2 separate regions of the Homo sapiens genome follow, and region 1 is linked to region 2. Evidence: fine-mapped expression QTL. A gene starts in region 2. The other region holds a variant in brackets. All regions are shown on one strand. Distances are between the middles of the regions.

What was found. PIP is the estimated chance that this variant, and not a neighbour inherited with it, causes the effect. A credible set is the group of variants that fine-mapping cannot tell apart.
Region 1: its variant is the best candidate, but not a certain one, in a credible set for the expression of PRX in NK cells (Schmiedel 2018, PIP 0.57).

What each region holds. Positions count from the first base shown.
Region 1 is chr19:40,366,099-40,371,467 of GRCh38, forward strand. PLD3 (phospholipase D family member 3) reads left to right here. Exons shown (of 13, transcript NM_012268.4): 3 at 321-412; 4 at 512-586; 5 at 675-817; 6 at 1,598-1,781; 7 at 3,810-3,930; 8 at 4,012-4,139. The coding sequence starts at 386. MIR6796 (microRNA 6796) reads left to right here and starts at 3,748; the gene lies at 3,748-3,809. RefSeq lists a silencer at 1,848-2,013. The variant G/A (reference allele first, on the strand shown) is at 2,633.
Region 2 is chr19:40,410,415-40,415,783 of GRCh38, forward strand. It overlaps PRX (periaxin), which reads right to left and starts at 2,964. Exons shown (of 7, transcript NM_181882.3): 1 at 2,924-2,964. RefSeq lists enhancers at 1-257, 3,774-4,422.

The DNA of each region.
Region 1 (5,369 bases), 44 kb before region 2:
CGCTGACCTCATCCAGCGCTGCCTTTCTTGGGGTGTCTACAGGTTGGAGGAGGGAGAAGGGGGCTGCTAGAGGGGAGCTGCGTGGGTGCTGATGGGGGCAGGGTGGGCACTGCAGAGTGAAGAGCAGGCAGCAGAGCGTTGGATTTTGAGGGATTTCGAAATCCTGCTGACCAGTGACCAGCTTCCTCTTTTTGGGGTGGTGGGCAGTGTGCCAGTGGCCCCCATGATTATGAATAGCCCCAAGACTAATCACTCTTCTGTGATGTCTGTCCCTGGAAAGCGTAGAACACCCCACACAGTGCCCACTTTTGTTCTGCCAGTTTGGAGACCCTGACACACCCACCTTCTCACCTGGGCTCTGCGTATCCCCCAGCCTTGAGGGAAGATGAAGCCTAAACTGATGTACCAGGAGGTAGGTGGATTGGGGGGCTCAGCAGGGTGGAACTGGGTACAGTGGGGGTGGGGGTTCCCAAGAGCCACCTGTCACCCCCGTTGTTGTCCCCATCCCCAGCTGAAGGTGCCTGCAGAGGAGCCCGCCAATGAGCTGCCCATGAATGAGATTGAGGCGTGGAAGGCTGCGGAAAAGGTAGGAGCCCTCCGCCACCCTCGCTCTGTCTCAGAGACAGGCTGGGCTGCCCCCCTCGGGCTGGCTGACCACCTCCTCCTCCCCACAGAAAGCCCGCTGGGTCCTGCTGGTCCTCATTCTGGCGGTTGTGGGCTTCGGAGCCCTGATGACTCAGCTGTTTCTATGGGAATACGGCGACTTGCATCTCTTTGGGCCCAACCAGCGCCCAGCCCCCTGCTATGACCCTTGCGAGTAAGTGGGGGGTGCTGCAGTTGGTGGGGGAGGGGCCTGCCAGACCAGGTACACTTAAGCACACACTAAACAGGGCCTGCACTCAGCCCTACCCAGCGCTTGCGACAAGTGAGGAGGTTGCAGGCTCCCAAGTGCTCGCCCGCCCCCTCCTCCTCCACACACATAGTTTCTATGGCAGCCACAGCGTCATCTTCTGTCAGGCCTGTGAACAGACACAGCATCTTCCACCCACATCTGTGGACCCACACACACATCTCAATACACGACCTTCCTTCCACACCTCTAGACAGACACGCAGAGGATCATGAGTCCAGGCACGCATTCAAATACACACAGTTTTAAAAAATTTTTTTTAAAAGAAAAGAAAAACTCAAATACAGTTTAGCTGGGCTTGGTGGCTCACGCCTGTAATTGCAACACTTTGCGGGGCTGAGGCGGGAGGATTGCTTGAGCCCAGGAGTTCCAGACCAGCCTGGGCAATGTAGTGCGGCTCCATCTCTACTAAAAGTAAAAAAAGTAACCAGGCATACTGGTGCACACCTGTAGTCCCAGCTACTCAAGAGGTTGAGGCGGGAGGATCGCTTGAGCCCAGGGGTTCGAGGCTGCAGTGAGCTGAGATGGCGCCACTGCGCTTCCAGCCTGGGGGACAGGGCAAGACTCTGTCTCTAAAAAAAAAAAAATACAGTCTATCCAACACACCCATGGACGGACAGCTGAGCACTCACCTCCCAGCCCTTGCTCTCCGGCACCGTATGGCTGATAGCATCCCCCACCCCCCAGAGCAGTGCTGGTGGAAAGCATTCCTGAGGGCCTGGACTTCCCCAATGCCTCCACGGGGAACCCTTCCACCAGCCAGGCCTGGCTGGGCCTGCTCGCCGGTGCGCACAGCAGCCTGGACATCGCCTCCTTCTACTGGACCCTCACCAACAATGACACCCACACGCAGGAGCCCTCTGCCCAGCAGGTACCTGCAACCTTGGCCCTGGCCGGCAGCAGGGGCAGGGGGTGGGAGGCAGCGGGGGCTGTGGGGAATGAAGGGGTTTCTCCTGCAGCCCAGGAGACAGAGGGGTGTGTCTCACACAGCAGATTGGACACAGGTGTTTGCAAGCAGCTGTCGTCACGTGGCTCTCTGGACTGGGGGCGTTTGTCACGGTCATCTGTAGGCCTCTGAATGTCAGGGTGCGGGTTTGGTTACAAGGGATTATTAGGCTGGCAGATGTCACTCACCCACAAGCTGTCCTGACCCAGTCACACAAAGAAAGGGAAGAGTGGAGTAATTAACAGCCCAGCCTCAAGACAGGGGCCACCTCCCAGCTGTGTGACCCCAGGCAGGCCACCTCTTCTCTCCAGCTTCAGTTTCTTTATCTGTAAAATGGGGCCAATTTATAGCACCTGCTTCTTAGGGCTCTTGTGAGGATGAAATGGACTAATCCATGCAAATTTTAGCACAGTGCCTGGCACAGAGTCAGCCTTTGTGAGTCTGCTGTTACTATATATCCTGGTATGGTCTGCAGACAAACTTAAAGAACATAAAAGCTTCACAATTTGAAAAGGAACAGCCTACATGGATAACCTCTTCCATTGAAAAACCATGAATTTGTTCCTTCTGTTTTCTTCTCCCTACTGGCTCTTTTTGTGAGAAGTTGTCTTAAAACTTAACTAAAATTACAAGGCTCCTTAAGAACTGCCTGAAAAAAATAATTATGGCCAAGTGTGGTGATTCACACCTGTAATCCCAGCACTTTGGGAGGCCTAGACAGGAGGATCACTGGAGCCCAAGAGTTCGAGACTAGCCTGAGCAACATAGTGAGACCC[G/A]CCCCCCACCTCCCCTCAACCATCTCTACTAAAAATAAAAAAAAATTAGGAGGGTGTTGTGGTGCATGCCTGCAGTCTCAGATACTCAGGAGATGGAAGGAGGAGGATGGCTTGAGCCCAGGAGTTGGAGGCTGCAGCGAGCCGTGATCATGCCACTACACTCCAGCCCAGGCAACATAGCAAGACCCTGTCTCAAAAAAAAGAAAAAGAAAAAGTAATAATAATAATTACAAAAGTTAAAAACCAAAGCCAGGCATAGTGGTACACACCTGTGGTCCCAGCTACTTGGGAGGCTGAAGCAGGAGAATGACTTGAGCCTAGGAATTGGAGGCTGCAGTGAGCTGTGATCATGCCACTGCACTCTAGCCTGGGCAACATAGTGAAACCCTGTCTCTAAAAAAAAATTTTTTTATGTTAAAAAACCGTATGAGCTCCCACTCCCTGCTGGCTCCCTCTAAAGTGGTTTAAAACACAGATGTAGGAGGCAGATGGTCTGGGTTCAAATCCTGCTCCATAGCTGGATGTGGTGGTGCACTCCTGAGGTACTAGCTACTTGGGAGACTGAGGCAGGCGGAATGCTTGAGCCCAGGGATTGAAGATCAGCCTGGGCAACATAGCAAGTCCCTGTCTCAACAAACAAACAAACAAAAAAACAAAAACAAAATCCCACTCCACTACTGAGTTCTCTGTGGGGATTATAATTAAACCAGCCTCACTGGGTTGTGAGAATTCAGTGAGTTCGCTGAGAAGAGGCCTAGAACAGGGCCTGGCACACAGTAGGTTCCAGGGCATCCTTGACTGTTGCTGTTGTTGGCATCATCGTGCCTCACCCGATACCTTCCAGGACCCCCTGCCTGAGCCTCGCCCCCACCATACTGGGAGATGCCTGGAGGCCCTGCCTTGATGCTGAATTTTGAGAAAGTCCCTGGAGGGGCAGGAGGGGTCAGGAGGACTTGGAGGGGGATCACAGGGCAACTAATTATTAAAGCAGATAAAGATGTTTAAAACAGATAAGGAAGTCTTTTAATATTTTAATCTGTAAAGTCTTTAATCTATGCAGGCTAATGTAAAGTCTGTTTACTCCTAATCATGTCTCAAAATAACTCCACCGGGCATTACCTTGTGGGGTTGGAGAGCTGGCTGGTCCAGCCCCTCAGAAGCTCTCCCCTCCCCGCAGGGTGAGGAGGTCCTCCGGCAGCTGCAGACCCTGGCACCAAAGGGCGTGAACGTCCGCATCGCTGTGAGCAAGCCCAGCGGGCCCCAGCCACAGGCGGACCTGCAGGCTCTGCTGCAGAGCGGTGAGCTGGGGCCCAACTGGGGCTGGTCTGGGCCTGGGGGTACCCAGCCTGGCCCCTGATCTCTGCCCCTGCTGGTCACAGGTGCCCAGGTCCGCATGGTGGACATGCAGAAGCTGACCCATGGCGTCCTGCATACCAAGTTCTGGGTGGTGGACCAGACCCACTTCTACCTGGGCAGTGCCAACATGGACTGGCGTTCACTGACCCAGGTCTGTCTGCACCCTGTCTACCTTCCTTCCAGGCCACTCCCTGCCCCACAGGGCACCCAGCCTCCGACTGCATCCCTCACTCAATCCAGAGTCCTCTCCACCCATTCTCTGTAATGGCTTCCTTCTTGCCTCCTACCAGGCCTCCCTAATCCAAGCCATGCACGGTGGCTCACACCTATAATCTCAACACTTTGGGAGGCCAAGGTGGGAGGATTGCTTGAGCCCAGGAGTTGGAGACCAGCCTGGGCAACATAGTGAGACCCCATCTCTACCAAAAAAAAAAAAATAAGCCCGGTGTGGTGGCACACACCTCTGGTCCCAGCTCCTTGGGAGACTGAGGTGGGAGGATCACTTGAGCCCAGGAGTTTGAGGCTACAGTGGGTTGTATTCATGCCACTGCACTCCAGCCTGAGTGACAGAGTGAGACCCTGTTACAAAACAAAGAATCCCTAAATGGAGCCCTCTACTGCCCTCCCCCTGCTCCTGGAAGCCTGGGGCTCCCTCTGATCCCCAATTGCAGCTACCAGCCCCTCTACATGGCATTCAAGAACCTGCGCACCCATTTGATCTTCATTGTACATCTCTGTGTGCCTGCTCTAAGTCCAGCCCTATCCTGGGTAATGTTGGGAACATGGTGGTAACAGATGGACCTCATGGAACTCCCAGCCCAATGCAGACTGGCCTGTCACCTGACAGTGACAGCCCAGAGGGGTCAGGGCCGGGGTTGGGGAGACACAGGCAGAGGGTCAGGGCCAGGATGGAGGGAACAGAGGGCTGTGGAAGCTCAGAGACCCCAACCTGGGGCATTGGAGGGTTTCCCAAAGGAGGTATAACTAATCTGATCCCTGAAGGATAGGGAGGAATTAGCGCAAGATGGAACAGGAAACAGCTTGGGCAATGAGGTGAAGATAAGACAGGACAATAACTCATGAATTCATTTCCTCAACAGATAGTTCCCCTAACCTTTAATCTCAGCAATTATGCAGGGAGATGCTGTAGATATAGCTGTGACTGAGACATCCCTAGTGCCTGTCCTCCCAGCCCAATGGGAAGACCAGTTTGTCACCAGAAAGAATGAGGAGGGAATCCCAAGGGACTGTGAGAGCCCAGAGGAATGCCTGGTGCAGGCTGGGTAGTCATGGGAGGCTTCCTGAAGGAGGCAACATGTCAGCCTAGACCTAAGAATGAGTAGAAGCTAGCTCAGTGGAGGGTAGAAGCAACAGCAGATTG
Region 2 (5,369 bases):
GGACATGGGGACCCCTTAACACTCCCACAGCACCCACGCCCCCCACAGTGTAAGAGGGCTTCTCTCTGCATCTCCTAGGGGGTCCTGGTCTCTGTGGCCTTCCCTGGGATCCCCTGTGAGCCCCCTACACCTTCCAGGCTGTGCCAGGACTTGAACTTGTCTAAAAACTCCAGCACGGGCTGGGCGCGTGGCTTAGGCCTGTAATCCCAACACTTTAGGAGGCCGAGGTGGGTGGATCACGAGGTCAGGGGTTCGAGACCAGTCTGGCCAATATGGTGAAACCCCGTTTCTACTAAAAATACTAAAATTAGCCAGGCGTGGCAGCGCGCGCCTGTAATCCCAGCTACTCGGGAGGCTGAGGCAGGAGAATCGCTTCAGCCTGGGAAGCGGAGGTTGTGGTGAGCTGAGAATGCACCACTGCACTCCAGCCTGTGCGATAGAGCGAGACTCCATCTCAAAAAAATAAAAATAAAAATAAAAAAAGCTCCAGCGCTTTAGCTGGACAATCATAATAACAACTGATGGGTATTGAGTGGTTAGTATTAATATTAGCTGGTCCCTGCACTAAGACCTTGTCTGCCATGTCTGGGGCATTTCCTCTGAATTGGGCCCTGTGCTAGCACCCACAGGCCTCAAAATCACCCTAGATGTTGTGGCTGTTATGGGGTGGAAACTGAGGCTCACAGAGGGGTCACCCAGCCAGAAAGGGGCAGAGCTAGGACCCGTGCCTGCCCTTCACCCCTGCTTCACCTTAATTTGCATTGGTGGCTCTGCGCACTGGGGCAGGAGCTGGGTTGGGCAGGAGGGGGCCAACGGTGCTAGAAACACACCCAGGCCAGGTGCCGGGCCTGGACCGGGCAGGCGCTTTACATACTTGACCTTGTGGGACCCCATTTAACTGATGAGTCAATGAGAGTTAAGAGACCGGTGATCACAGTGACAGAGTCGAGACTTGAGCCCAGGTGTGAAAGCGAACTCAGTTCCCTTACCCAGGACTGATACACAGCACAGAGTCCTGAGCTGGGGACACGAGAAGCCTGAACCTTGTAGGTGGTAGTAGAGGGGGTCTCCTGGGTCATCAGCTCTCTGTCCCAGGCCCGTGGCTGTGAGGGTCATGCCCGGAGCCTGGCACAGGAAGTTCAGGCGGGGCAGGGACAAGAGAGAGTGCCCTCCTTCTTCGTCCCTGCCTGGACAGGCACCCAGCCCAGGTTATATTTAGCCCAACTGTGCTCTTCCTGAGCCACGTACCCAGCCCCTGGGGTAAGGTGGGGGCAGCTTCGGAAGGAAACCCACAGAGAGGACTCTGTGTTCCCAGCTCTGCCTATCCCACTAGGCAGGGGAAAGAGGGGTGGGGAGGCTCCTGGGGAGGGTCCCTGCCTTGTGTTAGAGGCAGATCCACTGGGACCAGGCAGACACTCCAGATGCCAGCAGCCTATTTCTTGGGTAGTTACTGTGGCATGACCCTGGCATATGCCAGAACTTTCAGAATCCCCAGGGTCCCCATTTCTTGAGCACCTACTGTGTGCTAAGATCCTTCCTGTCTTGGCTCCTTAAATCTTTGTAACATCTCCCTGGAGTGGGTACAACTGAGATATCCATTTCAGATGCGACTTATGCCCTTCAGAGCAGCTGGGAGCGAGGGGTTGTCATTCGGAGGCTGCTGAGGGATCGGCTGAGGGCATTGCCCTTCTGGCCCTCTTTCCCTGGTGACTGCCACCAACTTCACTTGGGAACCCTGCCTGCTCAGAGCCTCAGCTTTCCCCCGCCACCAGCGTGATCTCTCATAGCAATGGGGGTCAGGGGTTGGGCTGACTCATCCAGACCTCTAAACATTATCTGAGGCCACCTAGGGGGTCAGGGGGAGTTAAGGCAGTGGCCTCTGGCTGCCTCGGTTAGTCCCTGCTCCAGCACTTCCCAGGTGTGAGGACTTGGGCAAGATCCTTCATCTCTGGGGCCTCAGTTTCTCCATCTGTAAAATGGAGCCAATAAGAAAGGCTTTGAAGATTTGTGAGAGAACAGCAGGTGCTTAGAATATCCCTCCTGTATAGTAAATGCTTGATTAATATAAACTCGTCTCTGACAGCAACAGGGAGAGTATGGAGGGAGGGAGCTGTGCTTCTCACAGTGTTGCACATCCAACCTTTGCTCCTCAGTGGCCCCCACTTTCTCTGCTACCAAAGGGGAGCTTTGGCTGAGAGACAAAACCCAGCTCAGGCACCAGCCTCCCAACAGGATCCATGCTGCCTCCCTAGCACCCTACTCCAGGGACCCACCCCAGGCCTCCTGCCCCAGCTCTGGTGTTTGTTAGTTTGTTTTTTGGAGACAGGGTCTCCCTCTGTCACTGAGACTGGAGTGCAGAGGTGTGATCACGGCTCACTGCAGCCCCAACCTCCTGGGCCCAACCCAATCTCCCATCTCAGCCTCCAGAGTAGCTGGAACCACAGGCATGCACCACCATGCCCAGCTAATTAAAAAAAATTTTTTTTTGTTTTGTAGAGATGGGGGCCTCTCTATGTGGCCCAGGCTGGTCTCGAACTCCTGGGCTTAAGCAGTCCTGCCGCCTCAGCCTCCCAAAGTGCTGGGATTATAGGCATGAGCCACCATGCCTGGCTGCCCTAGCTCTTTAAAAGCAGCAACTCATTTACTCGGCACCAGCCCTGTGAGGTGGCCTCCAGACATCAGCCCATTTTAGAGATGGGGAAACAGAGGCACAAAGGATGAAGTATCTTGCCCAAGGCTGCACAGCCAGAAAGGAGAGGAAAGGGGATTTGAACCACCAGCTCCAAAGTCTATACCTTTAACACCTACACCACACGGCTTCCTGAGCCCCCAGGCCCCCTCCCAGCACCTCCCGGGACCCTGAACCTCATTCCCACAGTGTCTCAGCCTGGCCAGGGAAGGGACCGGCCGGCTGATCTCTTACCGCTGAGCCTCCAGACACCTCGAGAGCTCCTGGTCCCGTCTGTCAGCCCTAGCCCTAGGCTGGGGGGGAAAAGGAATGGGGAGGGGGGAGGAGAGAGAGACCCCAGCCATTGGCTGCGGGGGTGTGACGTCACCAGAGGGTGGGTGGTGGAGAAACAAACATCCCCCTCCTCCAGCTACATCTATCCCCAAGGGGTGGGGGCCACGGGACAGCCACCAGCCGCCTCTCTCTTGCCTGGGCCGAGATCTCTGCCATGAGCTCAGCTTCAAGGATTTGCACGTTGGCTTCCTCGACTTGGAGAATCAGGACCCCACCCCAGCCCCACTGTTTCCTGGCTCCAGGACCCGGGCCTGGCCAACTGCCTCTACTGTAAACTCCTTTCACTCCCTCTCCCTGTCAACTTGGGTTCAAATCGCAGCGCGACCACTTCCTCGCTGGGTGACCTGCTGCCAGTCACAGCTTCTCTTTGCGGATAGTAAGAGTACCCACCTTATGGGGCTGTGGTGAAGATTAAACGAGTTAAAAGAGACTGAAAATGTAAGACAATGCCGGGCACATAATGAGGGTTACTAATAAGTATTTGGTATTATTTTTCACACAAATTAGGTGGCTGGCTCATCTTGCTGGGGGGTTTTGGCCCCTTTTCAGTAAGGCTGGGCACAGGGGACCCCCAGTTCTCTGTCTAATGGAGTTACTGTTTAGGGGGACACCTATCACATACTAAGTACCATGCTCAGTGCTGAAGCCCTGCTTTTGAATCAAGGGTGTAAAATGGGCTCCTTATGCTCCCCACCCTTTTTTTTGAGACAAGGTCTCACTCTGTTGCCCAGGCTGGAGTGCAGTGGTGTGATCATGGCTCACTGCAGCCTCCACCTCCTGGGCTCAAGCAATCCTCCCGACTGAGCCCCCTCAAATAGCTGGGACCACAGGTATGCATCATCATGCCCAGCTAATTTTTGTATTTTTTGTAATGGCAAAGTTTCACCATGTTGCCCAGGCTGGTCTCGAACTCCTGGGCTCAAGCGATCTTCCCACTTCGGCCTCCCAAAGTTCTGGGATTACAGGCGTGAGCCACCGCGTCCAGCTATGCCCAATTTATAGCTATGTGGCCAGGAGGTGGTGAAGCTGAGGTCCAACCCCTGTTCTCCTGGACCACAAAAACCCTGCTACACTCTTCTGCCCCTTCCACTTTGCAGACCAGAAGGCTCAGAGAAGGTAAGTGACTCTCCCAATATCACCATAGCAGGTCATTGGCAGGGGTCCAGAGTTGAACCCAGACCTGCCCGACTCCCAAGCCAAAGCTACCAGGCCTCACCCCCAACCCCTGGACCCTGGTCCAGCCCCCAGCCTGCCCTGACTCACCAGACCCCGGGGGGCGGCACAGGGAGCACAGGTACCCCCACATGCCACTTGAACCCACCCGGCTGCTGCCTCGGAAGCTCGTCGCTCTCTGAACCCAGGCCCCAGGCCTGGGCTGGGCTGAGGCTGGGGGATTACCCCCAAAGCGCATGTCAGCAGCTTCTGCCCCATTGTCCAGCCAGGCACAGACACCAAGCCCTGGCCTCTGTCGGCACCCTCGCCCCTCACACCAGCCTGGGTGGCCCCTCTGCAGACCTGTCCCCCATCTCACACCAGAGGGTTGGGGCCTACTTCAGAGGGCGTGGGGGACCAGGCCAGGATGGCAGGATCCCGGAATGCTGGGGGCCTCCCTCCCTTCTCTCTGAAATGCCCCCTGCCCACTCTCAGCCACCGGGGAAGGCAGGAATGTGCTGAGCTCTGGGAAATGCCTTCCAGGCCTGGCAGCAACCAAGCATTGGGGTGTGGCCAGAAGCCAGCCAGAGCCCTCCTCCCAGGAGGGGTAGAAGGGATGGTATGGTCGGGGCTCCCGATGGGCCTGAGGAGACCCTCACTTCATTGCAGTCTCTCTCCTTCATTGATTCACGCAAACATTCTTTTGTTCCTATATTCATTCAACAAACACTCACAAGCCCTGTTTAGTGGTAGGTCTTTTGCTGGGCACAGGGGACATCAACAGATCTAACTCCACCCCAGGGAGGAGGCGGCAAACTCAGGAAAGGATCCTGCAGGAGGTGATATCGGCAGTCAAACTGAATTAGCCAGGCGTGGTGGCGGGCACCTGTGATCCCAGCTACTCGGGAGGCTGAGCAGGAGAATTGCTTAAACCCAGGAGGCAGAGGTTACAGTGAGGCAAGATTGCGCCATTGCACTCCAGCCTGGGTGACAGAGCGAGACTCTGTCTCAAAAAGAAAATAATAATAAATAATAAAAGGAAGTCAAAATGGAAGATTGAGGAGGAGGGAGCTAAGGAAAAAAGGAGGGAAGGGGGTTCCAGGCAGAGGGACAAATGTGGGCAAAGGACCAGAGGTGAGAAATGGAGCGGGTCTTCATTCACCATCAGCAAACATTCAGTGAGCACCTGGTCTTC